Linked DNA regions of Homo sapiens. The protein of the gene in region 2 purifies or fractionates together with the protein of the main gene of each other region. This does not show direct contact. Each region holds a gene or a part of one and is shown on either strand. Other genes may lie near its edges.

Region 1 (3,655 bases), on a different chromosome or scaffold from region 2:
ACAACATAAAAAGAAGCATATATTTACAGGAGTATGGTTGGGGAGAAAGGACAATGCAAACAAAAATTTGGGACTAATTTTCCTGAAAATTTACATAAAACCAACACAATGAAAAAGGTAAGAGGTGTGGGGCAGGAGATGGCCGGGCGCAGTGGCTCACGCCTGTAATCGCAGGACTTTGGGAGGCTGAGGCGGGTGGATCACCTGAGGTCAGGAGTTCCAGACCAGTCTGGCCAACATGGTGAAACCCCATCTCTACTAAAAATACAAAAAATTAGGCCGAGCGTGGTGGCTTACGCCTGTAATCCCAGCACTTTGGGAGGCCGAGGCGGGCGGATCACAAGATCAGGAGATGGAGACCATCATGGCTAACACGGTGAAACCCCGTCTCTACTAAAAATATGAAAAGTTAGCGGGGCATGGTGGCATGCGCCTGTAATCCCAGCTACTCAGGAGGCTGAGGCAGCAGAATGGCATGAACCCGAGAGGCGGAGCTTGCAGTGAACTGAGATCTTGCCACTGCACTCTAGCCTGGACGACAGAGCGAGACTCCGTCTCAAAAAAAATAAAAATAAAATACAAAAATTAGCTGGACATGGTGGCACCCGCCTGTAATCCCAGCTACTCAGGAGGCTGAGGTAGGAGAATCGCTTGCACCCAGTAGGAGAATTGCTTGCACCCAGGAGGTAGAGGTTGCAGTGAGCTGAGATCATGCCATTGCACTCCAGCCTGGGCAACAGAGTGAGACTCCACCTCAAAAAAATAAAGAAAGAAGTATGGGCAGGAGTAATTAAAGAGACTGTTTAGTTTTTCTACATGCAAAAAAAACCTAATTTTTCAATCTGTTTGTTAAATATTAAAAGGTAATAATTAGCAGAGCAGAAAAAAAGGTGATAAAATTTCTAACTCACTGGTTAAAAAAAAAAATACAAGAAAACTGGAAAGTTAAAAAGTAAGGTAGCAGCCAGGTGTGATGGCTCATGCCTGTAATCCCAGCACTTTGGAAAGCTGAGGTGGGTGGATCACCTGAGGTCGGGAGTTCGAGACCAGCCTGACCAACATGGGGAAACACGGTCTCTACTGAAAATACAAAAAATTAGCCGGGAATGGTGGGGCATGCCTGTAATCTCAGCTACTTGGGAGGCTGAGGCAGGAGAACCACTTGAACCTGGGAGGCAGAGGTTTTGATGAGCCAAGATCGCGCCATTGTACTCCAGCCTGGGCAATAAAAGGAAAACTCCATTTCAAAAAAAAAAAAAAAAGAGTAAGGTAGCAGTAATTAGAAAAAATGTATCAGTTGTCACAATACATATGAACAAGTTAAATTCCTCTATTAAAAGACAAATGTTCTCAAAGTCAGTGAGGACAATATTTAGCCATGTCATTTATAACAGAAATTCCTGTAACAAATTAATTTAAAAGCTAAAAATTAGTACACAAAGGTATGTATACACAAAGATACTTGTTGCAGTGTTGTTTAAAATGACAAAAAAGAAAACACTATAAATGTCTATCAAAAGAATAGTTAAGTAATATATTTTTTAACTATTAAATACTATGTACCGACCAAAAAGAATAAGACAGATTCTTATGTGCTAACACTGCAAGATGTCCAAGACAATATTCATTTAAAAAGAAAGCTGAAGAACAGTACATATGGCATACCTATATGGAAATACATATATATTTCTCTCTAAGTAGTTAAGACATAAATGTCACCTTATTTTACCATATAGGAAGTACATATTAGATTATTTATAAGGAATACAGAAAACACACGTCAAGTGGAAAAAAAAGAATGAAACAAACTATGTATACAGTAAAACCTTAGCTGTGCAAAAAAGACACACTAGAAAGAAACAAGCAGGGCTCAGTGGCTCATGCCTGTAATCCAGGCAATCTGGGATGCTGAGGTTGAAGGATCACTTGAGGCCAAGAGTTTGAGACCAGCCTGGGTGATACAGCAAGACCTCAACTCTAAGAAAAATAAAAAATAAAAAAAAATTAGCCAGGCTTGGTGGTGTGCACCTATAGTCCTAGCTACTCGGGAGGCTGAGGTAGGCGGATCACCTGAGCCCAAGAATTCGAGGTTGCAATGAGCTATAATCACACCACTGCTCTCCAGCCTGGGCAACAGAGTGAAACTCTTTAAAAAAAAAAAAAAAAAAAAAAAGGCTGGGCATGATGGCTCACAGCTGTAATCCCAGCACTTTGGGAGGCCAAGGCAGATGGATCACTTGACCTCACAAGTTCAAGACCAACCTGGGCAACACGGCAGGACCCTATCTCTACAAAAAAATACACAAATTAGCTGTGCATGGTGGTGCGCACCTGTAGTCCCAGCTACTCAAAAGGCTGAGGTGGGAAGATGGCTTGAGCCCAGGAGGCAGAGGTTGCAGTGAGCCAAGACTGCACCACTGCACTCTGGCCTGGGGGACAAGAGTGAAACTCCAGAAAGAAAGAAGAGAAAGGGAGAAGGGGGGAAAGAGGGAGAGAGGGAGAGAGGGAGGGGGGAGAGAGGGAGGGGGGAGAGAGGGAGGGAGGGAGGGAGAGAGGAAGAAAAGCAAAGCAAAGCAAAAAAAGAATGGTTTTGAAAAGAGCACTGAACAATTTACAACAGGATGTATCACAAAGTTTCATTTCTAAATTGGTTTACATTTCATTATCAATTTTCCCACAAGCAAAGTGTTACAGGTGGTCATGTTTCTGAACCACTATACTATAAAAGAAAAAGAGAATGATACTGAGGAAAAGCAATCAACTGGCATTCATCCCTACTATCTGCCACTCACCAGCTTTGTGACTGGACAAATTTCTTAATCTCTCTGAATCTGAGTTTCCTTTTATCTTGTTTTAGGATAATATCTATCTAATCTCTGATCCAATGAGTCAAAAGCTCTTTGAAAAGTGTGTCTGATTCAGAAAATACTCATCCAGAGACATGGTTCTGCTAGAAAATGGAGATACAAGAATAACACAGACCCTTTCCCTTAAACTAATAATCTAGTGCAAAAGACAATTACAACACAGCATACCCTGCTTTAACAGATGAAAGCACACATGTGGGGATATCACACTAGCTAGCAATTATAGAGGGTGGAGGAGAGACCCTGGTGGGTGGCTACCTGGGAACACATTCAAAAAGAAATAGCTAATCTAATCAGAGGGACAGGCTGGAAAGTATAGGATCGAAAATACACATTAAGATAGCATTACACTTACAAAAAGTACATATATTAGAAAGGTGTTACATGCTCCTTTATTTCAGTTGTACACACTTCTCTTCTCCCCAACTAATAATGCCAATCTAGTTTTAAAGACATGTATTACCAACAAACAATCAAGGCTTGGAATCTGTTGAAAGGAAAAGGAGAAAACAGAAACGCAGGGCATCTCAAGTAGACAAATAGTCACTTAGTACTCTGCTATTCAAAGTGTGTCCTTGAGCCTGCAGTATCTGCATCACCTATGAGCTTATTAGAAATACTCTCGCAGAATCCCAAACTTACTGAACCAGAATCTGCATTTTAAAAGGTCCCCAGGTGATCTGTGTGCTTTAAGTTTGAGAAGTACTGACACAGGGGTCTACTAGTTGATTTCTTGAAGTCCTCAGCTCAACCAAGCTGCAATCTACAGGGACTATTAAGAACTAGAT
Region 2 (3,655 bases):
GTGCAGACCGAAGTCAACTGATGCCTAAATCAGCAGCAGGAATATCAAGAAGCAGAACTCTGGGAAAGAGACTCCAAGAGGCAGGGGACAGGGAACCCAGGATGATGGCTGTGCAGCCAGAATGCACGCAGAAAGCATGGGGGCGTTTTTGGAACAGAACATCTCCAGGAGAGATTTCTCAAATATTAGATGCATTCGAATACATCAAGAGGAGATACAGACAACGTATAGCTTCTTACTGAATTAGTACGACGAAAATGAAGAAAGGACATAGACACATAAGAGTTACTTCCTCAAGTGAAAACAATGCTGCAAAAGAAAGATAAGGCAGTCACAGTATTTCACCTGGCTCAGCTATAAGTACACTGAGCACTGATTTCTGTTTTCAGGTAATACTGAACACGAATCTAACAAAAACCACAAGGGGACCATCAGGAGGACAGAGAAGAATAAATCGGAGTGACAGAAAGGCTGAGTGTGTGCAGTGGAAGTAAGGGGGTGAAAGACAGCTAAATCTTCATCTTTGATGGTAGAAAGTCAATAGTGAATCTGAAAAATAAGAGGCTGTATATGAACAAAATATCTGGAAATACAGAGACAAATAATTTTTTAAGATAAGCTAAAAGAGTTGAAATTGGTTCCCCTGAAAAGGGTGAAATGGAGGTAGGCAGTAGAAATTTTTGGCTTTTTTTTTTTTTTTTTTTTTTGAGACGGAGTCTTGCTCTGTCCCCCAGGCTGGAGTGCAGTGGCGCAATCTCGGCTCACTGCAAGCTCCGCCTCTCGGATTCTCGCCATTCTCCTGCCTCAGCCTCCCAAGTAACTGGGACTACAGGTGCCCACCACCACGCCCGACTAATTTTTTTGTATTTTTAGTAGAGACGGGGTTTCACCGTGTTAGCCAGGATGGTCTCGATCTCCTGACATTGTGATCCGCCCGCCTCGGCCTCCCAAAGTGCTGGGATTACAGGTGTGAGCCATCACGCCCGGCCAATATTTGGCTTTTTAAAACTATGTGTATGTTTAACTTTGATTAAAATTATTTAAAACAGAGCATGACAGATGAGGAAATAAAGACAACAAGAACAGATGGGAGTAGTTTTGCTGCACAAAGAACCAAAGTAATGGGGCAATAGTTGGAAAGGAATGGAGGCTTCAAGACACAGAGGCAACATCATTTCCCATCTGCTGTATTAAACATACCTGGAACCAATTGTTTTTAGTTTTCTATCTGGCTCACATTATACTTACTGTATTTTGCCAGGTTATTGGCAACTCATCAAAAATAACTTTTATAGGTACACAACAGCCCATCTAACAGCTTTATTATAATTAATATAAACTGTTAAACGTGGATTTCCAACTAGCCTGTCTACAGCAAAAGCAAGAGATAGTACATCTCTTAATTTCAAGTAGTCTGTAATTCAGTTTGTAAGAAAACACAAAAGATATAAGTAATTCAGTAGCAACATTATTCTCATAGCCACAAACTGAAAACAACCCAAAAGTCCATCTACTGTGACTGGATAAACAAGATGTAATACAGCTGACTTTTGAATAATAGGTTTGAACTGCACAGGTCCAGTTACACACAAATTTTTTTCAACACATATACTGGAAGATATTTTGGAGATGTGAAAAAACCCAGAGAGGAGCTAAGTATCGTAGAAATGTCAAAAAAATTAAGAAAAAGCTACGTCATGAATGCATAAACTGTATGTAGGTACTAGTCTATCTTATTTACTACCGTAAAATATACACAAATCTATTATAAAAAGTTAAAATTAAAACTTACGCACACAAACACAAGCCATATATGATGCCATTTGTAGTCAAGAGAAATGGAAACAAATGCAAAGATGCAGTATTAAATCATAACTCCATAAAATTAACTGTAGTGCATACTGTACGACAACTTCACAGCCACCACCTATTGCTCTTGTGGTGAGCTCAGGTGTTGCAAGTATCCACTTAGAATGCCATGTGATGCTGATCACATGTGATGCTGATTATCTCCCATAAGCAGTTTTGACTCTCCAATAAACTGTCTATCACAGTAGAAAGTGATTTCTCGCAGTTCTTGCCTATTTTTAATCTTAGTGCAATATTGTAAGCTTTGGGACCATAGGACCCACCCAACGTGGGTCCCACATAAAGTGCCACTAGTGATGTTGGGAGTGCTCCAAAGCAGCACAGAAAAGTCATGACAGTACAAGAAAAAGCTGAACTGGCCAGGCGCAGTGGCTCACACCTGTAATCCCAGCACTTTGGGAGCCCGAGGCGGGTGGACTGCGAGGTCACGAGATTGAGACCATCCTGCCTAACACGGTGAAACCCCATCTCTACTAAAAATACAAAAAAATTAGCTGGGCATGGTGGCAAATGCCTATAGTTGCAGCTACTCAGGAGGCTGAGGCAGGAGAATCCATTGAACCCGGGAGGTGGAGGTTGCAGTGAGCCGAGATTGCACCACTGCACTTCAGCCTTGGCGATAGAGGGAGACTCCATCTCAAAAAAAAAAAAAAAAAAAAAAAAAGAAAAAAGCTGAATTGCTTGATAGGTACTGTTGACTGAGGCCTGCAGTTGCAGTTGCCCACCACTTCAAGATAAATGACTATACCATAGGACCATTGTAAAAAAAAGAAAAGGAAATTCATGAAGCTGTCACTGCAGCTATAACAGCAGATATGAATACACCTGCAGTTTTGCCAAATACCCCTTTATCTTATAAAATAAAAATAAAGCCCCTAGGCGCCCAGGCAAGACAGAACAGACTGTGGCAATAAGATATCAAATTGTAAACAAGACCTAAGACCACCTGGGCAAGGGTTAAGTCATACACCCTACACTTAAAGAGTAAATGACATTCTAATTGCCACAGGATATTTTTTTTTCTCTAGCAGCTTAACAAGCACTGGCCTTGTGATAAACAATATTAAAACAATTACAGCTCACCAACAGCTAGATACAGATTGACCCCAGCTTCCCTCTTCCCACACTCTGTTCCACAAACAGTAACTACAGCTTTGATTGGACAAGAGACTGATCCCAGTAACATCTCCTGATAAGAGATCACTGACCATGGACTGGTACTACCAGCTTCCAGAGGCAGTGCATTCAGTTGTCATGTCCCTGTCCCTATTTCATCTTGTAACATACAGGATCTAATTGTCAGGTATTTTAAATGTTAAGTCTCCACCCCAAAGCGACCAGGGGTTGTACATTTACTCGGTATACAAGCATTAGGACCCCTCTTATATTCAGAGCTCCTCCTATAACCTGTTAAATAAGTATACTTGGCCAACGCATTCAGCATAAATTCCTGTCTCATCCTTTCCTCCTTCAGAGTGCCTGCTTTTGGTCTCTGCTGAAGGCTATACTTTCCAGCCTGTCAGAATGGCCACCCTGCAGACTGCAACCCTTTCTAAGAAATAAAGTTTCCTCTCCAAATTTATAGATCTTGTGATTCTTTTCTTGACAATCTCAAATTGGAAATGCAGCTTTTATGTGGGTGCAGGATTGTTCTAAGAAAGACACATCTATAGAGTCTAATATGATGGAGAAAAAAATTAAGTCATTATATGACAACTTACAGCAAAAGGAAAATGAAGGATCTAAAGCTGGAGAACTTAACGCCAGCAAAGGATGCTTCGATAAT

The links. The genes of interacting proteins can lie anywhere in the genome.
Region 1: the proteins of PNO1 (region 2) and MIB1 purify together in Homo sapiens (affinity purification with mass spectrometry; one large-scale study listed by BioGRID and IntAct). This does not show direct contact.

The regions. Positions count from the first base shown.
Region 1 is NC_000018.10:21,747,249-21,750,903, reverse strand, and holds part of MIB1 (E3 ubiquitin-protein ligase MIB1), read right to left. Parts: intron 1-3,655. UniProt on the Homo sapiens protein: E3 ubiquitin-protein ligase that mediates ubiquitination of Delta receptors, which act as ligands of Notch proteins.
Region 2 is NC_000002.12:68,167,800-68,171,454, reverse strand, and holds part of PNO1 (RNA-binding protein PNO1), read right to left. Parts: intron 1-3,655. UniProt on the Homo sapiens protein: Part of the small subunit (SSU) processome, first precursor of the small eukaryotic ribosomal subunit.